3 linked regions of the Homo sapiens genome follow. The protein of the gene in region 1 purifies or fractionates together with the protein of each later gene. This does not show direct contact. Each region holds a gene or a part of one and is shown in the gene's direction. Other genes may lie near its edges.

What was found.
Region 2: the proteins of THBS2 (region 1) and ZNF696 purify together in Homo sapiens (affinity purification with mass spectrometry; 2 studies listed by BioGRID and IntAct, with this or other methods). This does not show direct contact.
Region 3: the proteins of THBS2 (region 1) and DPY19L3 purify together in Homo sapiens (affinity purification with mass spectrometry; 2 studies listed by BioGRID and IntAct, with this or other methods). This does not show direct contact.

Annotation. Positions count from the first base shown.
Region 1 is NC_000006.12:169,252,282-169,256,031, reverse strand, and holds the start of THBS2 (thrombospondin-2 isoform 1 precursor), read left to right. Parts: upstream 1-2,185; 5' UTR 2,186-2,308; intron 2,309-3,750. UniProt on the Homo sapiens protein: Adhesive glycoprotein that mediates cell-to-cell and cell-to-matrix interactions. Ligand for CD36 mediating antiangiogenic properties.
Region 2 is NC_000008.11:143,294,267-143,298,016, forward strand, and holds part of ZNF696 (zinc finger protein 696), read left to right. Parts: intron 1-1,473; coding exon 1,474-2,534; 3' UTR 2,535-3,750.
Region 3 is NC_000019.10:32,408,659-32,412,408, forward strand, and holds part of DPY19L3 (protein C-mannosyl-transferase DPY19L3), read left to right. Parts: intron 1-2,580; coding exon 2,581-2,714; intron 2,715-3,750. UniProt on the Homo sapiens protein: C-mannosyltransferase that mediates C-mannosylation of tryptophan residues on target proteins.

The DNA of each region.
Region 1 (3,750 bases):
GGGCCATGTTCCAATCGGCTTACCTTCTGTCTCCTCTAAACAGACTTCCCTGATTCTGGGCTGCCAGATTTTACAGAAGGAGGCCCATCTTCTCTGTACCTGCCCATCGGCACGTGGAGTCATGAATACATACCTTCCTGCTCCCCAGTGAGTGTCACGGTCTTCACCGCATGCTCCTGAAGTGCTGAGCAGCTGAGCTGCCTGTCTTCAGCTTTAATCAGGAAACACGCATTCTGTGGACTGAGGAACAGGAGAGGCCGTGGCACGCAGAGTAGGGGATGCCGCCCTCCATGTTCTGGCCCCAGGAAAAACTAACCTGGAGGCAGAAAAACTCAAACTGATGAATGGATAATTATCCACTGAAAATTCTTTAAGGGGAACTGGTTTATACTTTTTTTGAATTTGAGATAACATCAATCTATTTAAACTACTTTTTAATTCAAATGATGACTTTGTCCCTAATAGCTTAAAAAGCAAAATAACGTACCTTAAACATGACACATACACTCTTGGAGGCTTTTGTCTGTGCATGTGTCGGAAACTGATGTTTGCCAAGTGATAAATAAACAGGTGCCATTAGGAAAAACAGAGGTTTTCACAAATGAAAGCTCCTTCCCTCTCCCACACCCGCTCGCATATCCTCCCTGAAGACAGAGGCCAGAAAGTGAGGCTTGCTCTTCATGGTGCCTGCCGACCTCTGCAGCGCTGGACCCCTGTGGGGGAATGCCAGGAGGCTTAAGAGACACTCCCCTGCCACAGACACAGTAAGGGTTGTGTCCACAGAAATTCGCTTTAATGTTCTCTAACTAGGACTTGACGGATCCATGGCCAGGCTGACAACTCCACACAAACGTGAAGGAACCTGACAGGCAGGTGCCGACATGAAGCAGGTGCAGGTGGCTCCGGGCAAAGCAGCAGCTCCCCAGTCACCATCCACCCCACCTGGGGAAGTAGCACCTCCCCCATCCAAGGTCCACCCCAACCCAGGAGAAGCAGCAGCTCCCCTGTCTGCCATTAACCCTGACCTGGGAGAAACAACACATCCCCAGCCACCTTGCACACTGACCTGGGAGAAACAGCCTCTCCACCATCCACCTTTCACACTGGCCTGGGAGAAGTGGCACCTCCCCCATCCACTGTCCAGCCCAACTTGGGAGAAGCAGCCCCTCCCCCATGTACCATCAACCCCCACCTTAGAGCAGCAGCTTCCCCTTTCCACTGTATACCCTGACCTGGGAGAAGCAGCCCCTCCGCATCCATCGTCCACCCTGACCTCTGAGAAGCGGTGCCCCCCACCCCCATGCAGAGTGCACCCTGATTGCGGGTGATGCCTGAGGTGTGGGAGGGGCGGGGGTTAGCTGCTGCCACTGCTTCTCGTTCTCTCGAGTCCTTGCTCTGTGCCTGCACGTCAGGTTGTTCCTGTGATGGGGCCACGTGCAAGTGTGCACCAAGGGGACTTGGCCGGGTACTGTACGTCCACTGGGACACACCCTTCTACGGGTATTGCACGTCCACTGGGAGACGTCCTTCTAGGGGATCCTCACTGAGCAAATGAAGCAGAATTTGGGTAAAAATGAATTTTCCCAAAGCTGCAGTACAGCTTTTCAGTCCTCTAACTGCCTGAGATAAATGTTGGCAACTTCCTTTTATATTAAATTTCATTTTTGTCACATAATACACTTGATTATTGACCATAATAACTTTATTAATATACAGACTGATTATTGATACTCACCGATGTATTTCATGTGTTATTGAGAGTCACTCATTTGGTTTAGAAAGACCAATATCACATTGAGTAATTCGAAACATATTTAAGGCATAGAACTTGCATTTTTTTCTCTTAAGCAAAATGAGGAGTTCTAGCCAATCTTGCTAGTGTTATTTATAGCATCTTATTTCCTGAGAGAAGACAGGAAAAGTGAGTCCCTGCCTTCCCTCTCTCCGTCTGGCTCCTCCCAGGCCTGTCTGGCAGGGGCCGGGGTGCAGGAGGAGGAGACGGCATCCAGTACAGAGGGGCTGGACTTGGACCCCTGCAGCAGGTACTCGGAGCAAATGGTGAGATCAGAAGGGGGATGATGTCATTCCTTCGAAGGAATGAATTAAACGTGCTTCCTCGTGTGTCTGATTGACAGCCCTGCACAGGAGAAGCGGCATATAAAGCCGCGCTGCCCGGGAGCCGCTCGGCCACGTCCACCGGAGCATCCTGCACTGCAGGGCCGGTCTCTCGCTCCAGCAGAGCCTGCGCCTTTCTGACTCGGTCCGGAACACTGAAACCAGTCATCACTGCATCTTTTTGGCAAACCAGGTACGATTATTTCTTAAACTCAATCAATTATTTAATGGTGCTCTAATTTTAAGAAATTAGAGTTCTCGAACTCTAAGAAGCGGAGAAGAAAAAGGAGCAATTTCGATTCTTAACTTAAGGTGGGTGGTGTATCTATTAACACTAAATGGCAAGTGTTTCTTCACGTGGTGTTTCTACTGCCCGCTTGAAGAGCAAGGCACGTGGCCGCTCCTCAGCTTTTCCTCCGTGGCTGTGCTTTCACCAGCCGGGCACCCCTTCCTCTCTGAGGGTTGTGGCTGCTGCTATTTCAATGTATATACCTGCCTGGGAACCCGGGTAAACGCTTTATGTTTTCAGTTTCCGAAGAAGAAGATTCCACATGAGAGTTTGTTATTGAGGAGAGAATTAGAAACAACTCCCGGAATATCTGAAAAGTAACTGGAGATTAGAGAGAGACTCTGATTGTTAACATCATTATTAGTAGATTAGAGAGAGACTCTGATCGTTAACATTATTAGTAGATTAAAGAGAGACTCTGATTGTTAACATTATTAGTAGATTAAAGAGAGACTCTGATTGTTAACATTATTAGCAGCTGAAAAGTGGTTTTGAACATAACTAGAGAGTATTTGTGGTAAGTCTATGGAAAATCCTGTGACTGCCGGGACACACAGCGACTTTTAACAGTCTTGGGGCAGTTTGCATATGAAAAGCGAGCTGGCAGGTTGCCTGGCTACCACTTAAGGAAGGTGGGTTTGGCTGCCCAGGACTGGGAGCTGAGCACCCAGGAGTCTGGTGTTTAATCAGACTGCTGTTGGTGGTGGACGGCCGGTAAACAATTAGCTCTCTGCAAAGCTATCTTTTACTTTGATTGTTCATACGAAAAGAGTTTTAAAAGACCTTTGCAAATTCAAACTACATTCTGCTGCAGACAGGCACCGAAATCTTTCTTTTGGAAAAACACAAGCATAAACGTGGATGTGTGGCGTGCAGAGGCTGGGGCAGGGGTGAGCGGCACTGGCTCATCCGTGGCTCCATCCATGCATGCCCGGTGTCCCTGGATGGGCTGAGGCCAGGTAGCCTGGCTGCTCATCCTTCCTGTGGGATGGAGCCTCACTGTCCTTTGACAATCCGCAGCAGGGGATGCTTTGTTAGCCTCCTGCTCTTGTAAGAATCTACCTCAAGGCAGAGACAGTAGGATCTGGTTTCGTCAAAGGAGTTTGATTTAGTTTTTCTAACCTGTCCTTATGAAGCTGGGCATCCAGAACTTTCGCATTTACCATCCTGTTCTTGGCTGGCCTCTGCAGGGCCAGCCCCACACAGCTGTCCTTAGGGGACTGCGACGTACCCGGCAGTGTGGGCTGATGAGGTGGGGAGGTGGGAAGAGCCTGCCAAGGCTGTACCTGAGCTGTGTATTCTAACACCGTTCTGTGGTGCTTACTGCATGCAGGTACTGTTCTAAG
Region 2 (3,750 bases), on another chromosome or scaffold:
GACAAGGGCCATTGATAACGCAGCCTGGATGGGGTTGCTCAGCCTGACCAGCGCCGCCGCCGCCCAGCCCACATGGGACGTGGGTTGCTGCTTCCAGCTCTTGTTCCGGATTTCTTTTCTTTTCTTTTTTTTTTTTTTAAGACAAAGTCTTGCTCTGTCGCCAGGCTGGAGTGCAGTGGCGCCAGCTCACTGCAATCTCCACCTCCTGGATTCAAGTGATTCTTCTGCCTCAGCCTCTCAAGTAGCTGGGACTACAGGTGTGCACCACCACACCCAGCTAATTTTTGTATTTTTATTAGAGATAGGGTTTCACCTAATCTTGATCTCTTGACCTCGTGAACTGCCCACCTCAGCCTCCCAAAGTGCTGGGATTACAGGCGTGAGCCACCGCGACTGGCCTCTTGGTCCGGATTTCTGTCTGAGTGAGGACGCTCCTGTTTGCACATAACAGAAGCCCTTAGAGTTTGGTGTTTGGGGGCAGTTGTTAAGGAGTCTGCGTTGTCTCAGGGAGTCCAAGGTAAAAGGAATGAGCTGGGGCCATGGCTGGGTGTGGTGGCTCACACCTGTAATCCCAGCACTTTAGGAGGCTCAGGTGGGAGGAGGGTTGAGCCCAGGAGTTCAAGACCAGCCTGGGCAACACATTGACACACTGTCTCTACAAAAAATTTTTAAAATAGCCTGGTGTGGTGGTGCTCACCTGGAGGTGCGCCACCTACTTGGGAGGCGGAGGGAGGATCACTTGAGCCCTGAGGCTGCAGTGAGCCATGATGGTACCACTGCACTCCAGCCTGGGTGATAGAGCAAGACCCTGGCTCACAAGAAAGGAAGGAAGGACAGACAGAAGGCAGAGCTGGGCCGTGGGCTCTGTTGGGTGCCACTGTCCCCGGGCCTCCTGCTACATCTGCCTCGCTCCCGTCCTGGCTTGCTGCCAGCTGTCTCCAGCCTCCTTTGCTTTCCCAGCTGTCCCGCAGAGTAAGGCAGTGCCCAGAGCCTGCGTTTCTGTCCCCTCCCCTCCCAGGACTGGGTGGGCCGAGGCTAGAGGTTTAGCCCTGTTTCTAGCCCCGTTTAGCCTCGTTTCTGTTTGTATATTTTTAAAATTCTATTTTTTTAAGAGACAGGATCTCACTATGTTGGCCAGGCTGGTCTTGAACTCCAAGTCTCAAGTGGTCCTCCTGCCTCAGCCTCTGAAAGTGCGGAGATACAGGTGTGAGTCACCACATCCGGCCCCACAGCCCCGTTTCTGGAGTGGCAGTGCAGGATTCTCGTCTACCTCATAACCATGGGGGTTAAGAAGGTGGGGAGGAGAAAAAAACTAAAAAAAACGAGGCGGGAACTGAATGGGCAAAATCAAAGGTGTCTGTGGCACACTGACGTCACCATCACTGTCACTCTGTCGTCACCACGATTGCCAGAGCCACCCTCGACTCACGTTCTCTTACATCTAAAATCGTTCCTGTCTGGCCTCTTTTTCAGCTGTGAAGGCTGCTTTCCTGGCGCAGGCCCCGAGTGGCAGCCGGTCAGCCGAGGTGCAGGCAGCTCAGAGCACGGAGCCTGCCGCAGAGGCAGGCGCTCCCGAGGGAGAGGGCCACAGAGGGGGGCCTCCCCGGGCGTTGGGGTCTCTTGGCCTTTGTGAAAACCAGGAAGCCAGAGAGAGGCCCGGAGGTTCCCCTCGAGGCCCGGTCACTTCTGAGAAAACTGGAGGACAGAGTGGCCTCGAGTCAGACGTCCCTCCGAACGCAGGCCCCGGCGCAGAGGGCGGGGGCAGCTGGAAGGGGCGGCCTTTCCCGTGCGGCGCCTGTGGCCGCAGCTTCAAGTGCTCCTCGGACGCGGCAAAGCACCGGAGCATCCACTCGGGGGAGAAACCGTACGAGTGCAGCGACTGCGGGAAGGCCTTCATCCACAGCTCGCACGTGGTCCGGCACCAGCGGGCGCACAGCGGGGAGAGGCCCTACGCGTGCGCCGAGTGCGGCAAGGCCTTCGGCCAGAGCTTCAACCTCCTCCGGCACCAGCGCGTGCACACGGGCGAGAAGCCCTACGCGTGCGCCGACTGCGGCAAGGCCTTCGGCCAGAGGTCGGACGCCGCCAAGCACCGCCGCACCCACACCGGGGAGAGGCTGTACGCGTGCGGCGAGTGCGGGAAGCGCTTCCTGCACAGCTCGAACGTGGTCCGGCACCGGCGGACCCACCACGGGGAGAACCCGTACGAGTGCCGGGAGTGCGGCCAGGCCTTCAGCCAGAGCTCCAACCTCCTCCAGCACCAGCGCGTGCACACGGGGGAGCGGCCCTTCGCCTGCCAGGACTGCGGCCGCGCCTTCAGCCGCAGCTCCTTCCTCCGCGAGCACCGCCGCATCCACACCGGGGAGAAGCCCCACCAGTGCGGCCACTGCGGGCGCGCGTTCCGGGCGCTGTCGGGCTTCTTCCGGCACCAGCGACTCCACACGGGCGAGAAGCCGTTCCGCTGCACCGAGTGCGGCCGCGCCTTCCGCCTGAGCTTCCACCTCATCCAGCACCGGCGGGTGCATGGCGCCGAGTGAGCCGGGGCTGCGGCGGAAGAGATGCCGGCGGCCTGGTGGGCGCGAGGCCGAGGCCGGGGGAGGCTCCTGTCCGCCCCGTGCGCGGTGAGGAAGTAACAGCCGGCTGCGCGCCTGGTTCTCGGGTTGCGAAAGCCTCGCCAGGCCTGCATCCGCCTTGGCTTGGGAGCAATCAGGAGAGACAGGGCTCGGGGAAGGCGAGCGCTGCCCGCGGGAGGCGATTCCCAGAGGCGGGGAGGTCTCAGGGGTCTGTCCCGGGCCGGCCGCCCGCCTCTGAGACTCCCCGCCTCCCACGGTCAGCTGCTGCGGGGCAGTGGCCGGTGATTGAATCGGTCATTCCTCCGCAACCAGGCCTCCATCAAAACCCTGCATGAGATGAGGGCCTCGGGCTTCGGGTTGGTGAAGGCGGGGTGGGGGGGCAGTTAGGAAGGGGGCGCCCAGACAGGGCATGGAAGCCTCGCGTCCTCCCCCGTACCTTGCGGGTCGGTGGTTCATCCATGTATTTCAACGCCTTTTCACAGCCGGTTCATATGGTCCCGACTTCTGTGTGCTTAGAAAATTATGGAACTTGGCCGGGTGCGGTGGCTCCCGCCTGTAATCCTAGCACTTTGGGAGGCCGAGGCGGGCGGATCACACGGTCAAGAGATCAAGACCATCCTGGCCAACATGGCAAAACCCCCATCTCGACTAAAAATACAAAAAATTAATTGGGCGTGGTGGCGTGCGCCTGTAATCTCAGCTACTTGGGAGCCTGGGGCAGGAGAATCACTTGAACCTGGGAGGCGGAGGTTGCAGTGAGCGGAGATCTGGGCACTGTACTTTAGCCTGGGCGACAGAGAGACCCATCTCAAAAAAAAAATTGGAACCTGAGAAGGGGGTCGTGGGGTCCCCGGGGCCCACCGTCTGCACTTGGCATCTGAAGTCGGGGTGGTCTTGTGGGACTGACCCCTTACCCTGTGGGTTCTGCACTAGCTCCGGGCAATTGGTGACAGAATCGAGTTAAATTGTAGGACATCGCGTTGGTGTCTGAGAGGGAGTTGGAGAGCTGGTTGGTGTGGAGGGAAAGGCTTACACACATGTGATTTCAGAAGCGTTCTGTGGGTAGAGGAATCGTTTTCTCTTTGAGACTGTTATGAGTATGTACAAATGTTATTTCCTGTAAAATATTTTCATTTTTTAAAATGTTATTTTCTAGATAGAAAAGTAGAAGTGTCTCTTT
Region 3 (3,750 bases), on another chromosome or scaffold:
CTAATTTTTCTGGTCGTGTATACTATTTACACCAGGCAACCTTACCTTGGGTGAGTTTCCATTAAGGTAGTGAAAGGTGGATCAACATTTTTTAAAAATTCTTTATAATTAGTCAAATTCCTGAAGTTTTCTTTTGCTTTTTTTTTTTTTTCTTTTATTGGTGGGAAAAGTAATCAGAACTTGGTCAGTTGTTTGTATAATGGTAAAGACTTGCTAAGTGATGCATCAGATAGCATTAATTACCAACTTCTTGCTTCCTGAGTAGCTTTTGTAACTAAAGCATGGTCAGGATTTTAAAAGTTAACATGAAAATCTTCATACCCATTAACCATTTTGGATATCTGACAGAATTTACATTATTTACAGCCATGTTAATTCTTACCAGCCAGGCTAGTAAAGCAATTCAGGGAAACAGTTTAACAAAAGTAATCTGTAATGGGAGGTCATGACACCTGGCTCAGCCATTAGCGAGTGATTAACACGTTTTGGATAATAGTACTTTCTGAACACCTTAAACAATGCAAAGAAAAAGAAATATACTCCCATCCTGAAACTAACACCAGTGGCACTGTCTTGCTGTCTTAATGTCATATTCTGCACATGTATACCCATAAGCATTCGTATACAGTTTTGCAAAATTGGGATCCACGTGCTGTTTTGTAGCTTGCTATTTTTCTCTTATTATGTTATGAACATGTCATAAGCCAGTTAACGTATTTTTGAAATATCATCTATGTAAAGTATTTTTATAGCTGCCACTGTAGAAGTGAAAGGTTTTCTTACCATTTGCTAATACAGACAGAACTGTGATCAATTTCCTTGTGGCCATATGTTTGTTTAAAACTTTATTTCCTTGGGGCATGTCTTAGTCCATTTCTGTTGCTATAAAGGAATACTTGAGGCTAGGTGATTTATAAAGAAAAGAGGTTTCTTTGCCTCAGGGTTCTGCAGACTGTATGAGAAGCATGGCACCAGCATCTGCCTCTAGTGAGACCTCAGGAAGCTTCCAGTCGTGGCAGAAGACTTAGGGGAGCCAGTGTGTAGAGATCACATGACCAGAGTAGAAGCAATTTCCAGGGAACACAGGATGTCAGGCTCTTTTTTAACCAACCAGCTCCCCTAGGACTAACAGAATGAAAACTCAGTACTGCTAGAATCTCACCAACCTGTTTATAAGGGCTCTGGTTCCATCACCACACCACCTCCCATTAGGCCCCACCTCCAACATTGGGAATCACATTTCATCATGAGATTTGGAGGGGCCGAATAGTCAAACCACAGCAGGGTACATGCCTAGATTGGGAATTACTGGCCAAATGGGATGCTCATTTTGGTGGCTTTTACTCACTGCTGCCATGTTGCATTCCAGAGAGGCACCAATTTATTCTTCTAGCAGCAATGTTTGAAGATGTCTATTTTTTATACCCTTACCAAAACAGTATTAGCATTTTGAAAGCTGTCAAATTGGCCAAGATTTAAGTATAACTCACAGTTTTGATTTGCATTTCTTTAACATTAATGAATTTAAACATCTTCAGTCTGTTATTATTATTGGCCACTTTTTTCTATTGTACATTGCCTGTTCATGTCCTTAATCTTTTTCCTACTGCAGTATTCATCTTGACAGGACAATAAATTGTCCTGAAATAAAATAAATTGTCCTGAAAGTATTCATCTTATGTTAAGGGTATTTAAGCTTTCTTATATGTGCTATCCATATTTTGCCTAGTTTATATGTCCTTTAACTTGAGTTATGTTGGATTATTTATTCTGTGGGTTTTTCCCCCCAGAGCATTCCTGCAAAACCTGTGGGTTTAAAAAAAAAGTTTTAGGTAATCGGCCAGGTGCAGTGGCTCATGCCCGTAATCCCAGCACTTTAGGATCCCAGCTTGGGTGGGTGAATCACTTGAGGTCAGGAGTTCAAGACCAGCCTGGCCAACATGGTGAAACCCTGTATCTACTAAAAATACAAAAATTAGCCAGGCATGGTGGCATGTGCCTGTAGTCCCAGCTACTCAGGAGGCTGAGGTGGGAGAATTGCTTGAACCTAGGAGGCAGAGGTTGCAGTGAACCGAGATTGCACTACTGCATTCCATCTTGGGCAACAGAACAAGATCCTGTCTCAAAAAACAATAATTATTTTTTAGGTAATCAAGTTTTTAAAATAGCTTTTAAAGAATAAGCCACCAATTGTACCTAGATTATCTAAAAGATCGATTACGTCCTAGACACGTAACACATTTAGTCATCCATTTAACAGACTTCATAGTTAAATTACGGTTGTTAAACTGTGCCGGACAGAGGCCCTCAGTATTAAACATGAATAAGATAATGTATTTGTCTTCAAGAAGCTCACGTTGTAGTTGGCAGAATGGACACATGGACAGTTAGATACGGGGTAACAGTTGTAATAGAATGAAAACAGGTCTGTGGAATCAGAAAGGACCCTCCGCTGGAGACAGGAAAAGCTTTCCCAGTGACAGGCAGCTAGACTTAGCTTACTTGATAATCTGAAGTAGAACTATTACATTCTGATTTTTTTACTGACTTAGTTATTTATCTGTTCCATTTTTCCAAAAGGTTGTACCAGTAGAAGATTATGGAAGATTTTGTCATTGACAATTGGTGGAACCATTGCCCTTTGCATTGGACTTCTTACATCTGTCTACCTTGCCACGTTACATGAAAATGATTTATGGTTTTCTAATATTAAGGTATGGAGTTTCTTTGACCATTGTATCATTCACTCAGTGGGATCTCCAGTAGTAAGCCATGTGGATGAATGACCAAGGCAACACAGTTTTGCCATAAAGAATCCAATCTCTAGAAAGGTTGGACTATAGAGTGAAATAACTTTTGTGTTTATTATTTTAAAATAACATATTAGAATCTTTTTTTAAATTTTTCTTTATTATTTATTTATTTTTGAGATGGAGTCTCACTCTGTCACCCAGGCTGGAGTGCGGTGGCGCAATCTTGGCTCACTACAACCTCTGCCTCGCAGGTTCAGGTGATTCTTCTGGCTTAGCCTCCCAAGTAGCTGGGACTATAGGTGCGTGCCACCACACCCAGCTAATTTTTGTATTTTTACTAGAGACGGGGTTTCAGCATATTGACCAGGCTGATCTCGAACTCCTGACCTTGTGATCTGCCTGTCTCAGCCTCCCAAAGTGCTGGGATTACAGGCGTGAGCCACTGCGTCCAGCCAGAATCTTTATTTTTCATTTTAATTTTTTGAGATAGGGTATTGCTCTGTCACCCAGGCTAGAATGCAGTGGTGCAAACATGGGTCACTGCAGCCTCAACCTCCTGGGCTCAAGTGAGTATCCTGCCTAAGCTTCCTGTGTCACTGGGACCCCAGGCATGCACCACCTCACCAAGCTAAATTTGATTTTTTTGTAGAGACAGGGTCTCACTTTGTTGCCCATGCTGGTCTCGAACTCCTGGGCTCAAGCGATCCTACTGCCCTGGTCTTCCAAAATATGAGAATGAGCCATAGCACCCAGCCCAGAATTTTTATAATCAAGTGAGTTTTTTCTTTTTCATTAACTTATTCCATTTATTTAGCAGTTATTCTAAATTAGTATTTTTCAAGTTATAGATTGTGAAATTAGTGCAGTAGGTCATGAGTAACATTTTTCTTAATGAAATCAAAAAGAAAGAATACTATCACATCTAGTAGGGTTGAGGATTGTTTTGTGAAACTTTTAATTTTATATATATATATATATGCACAAACTGGGTCACAGT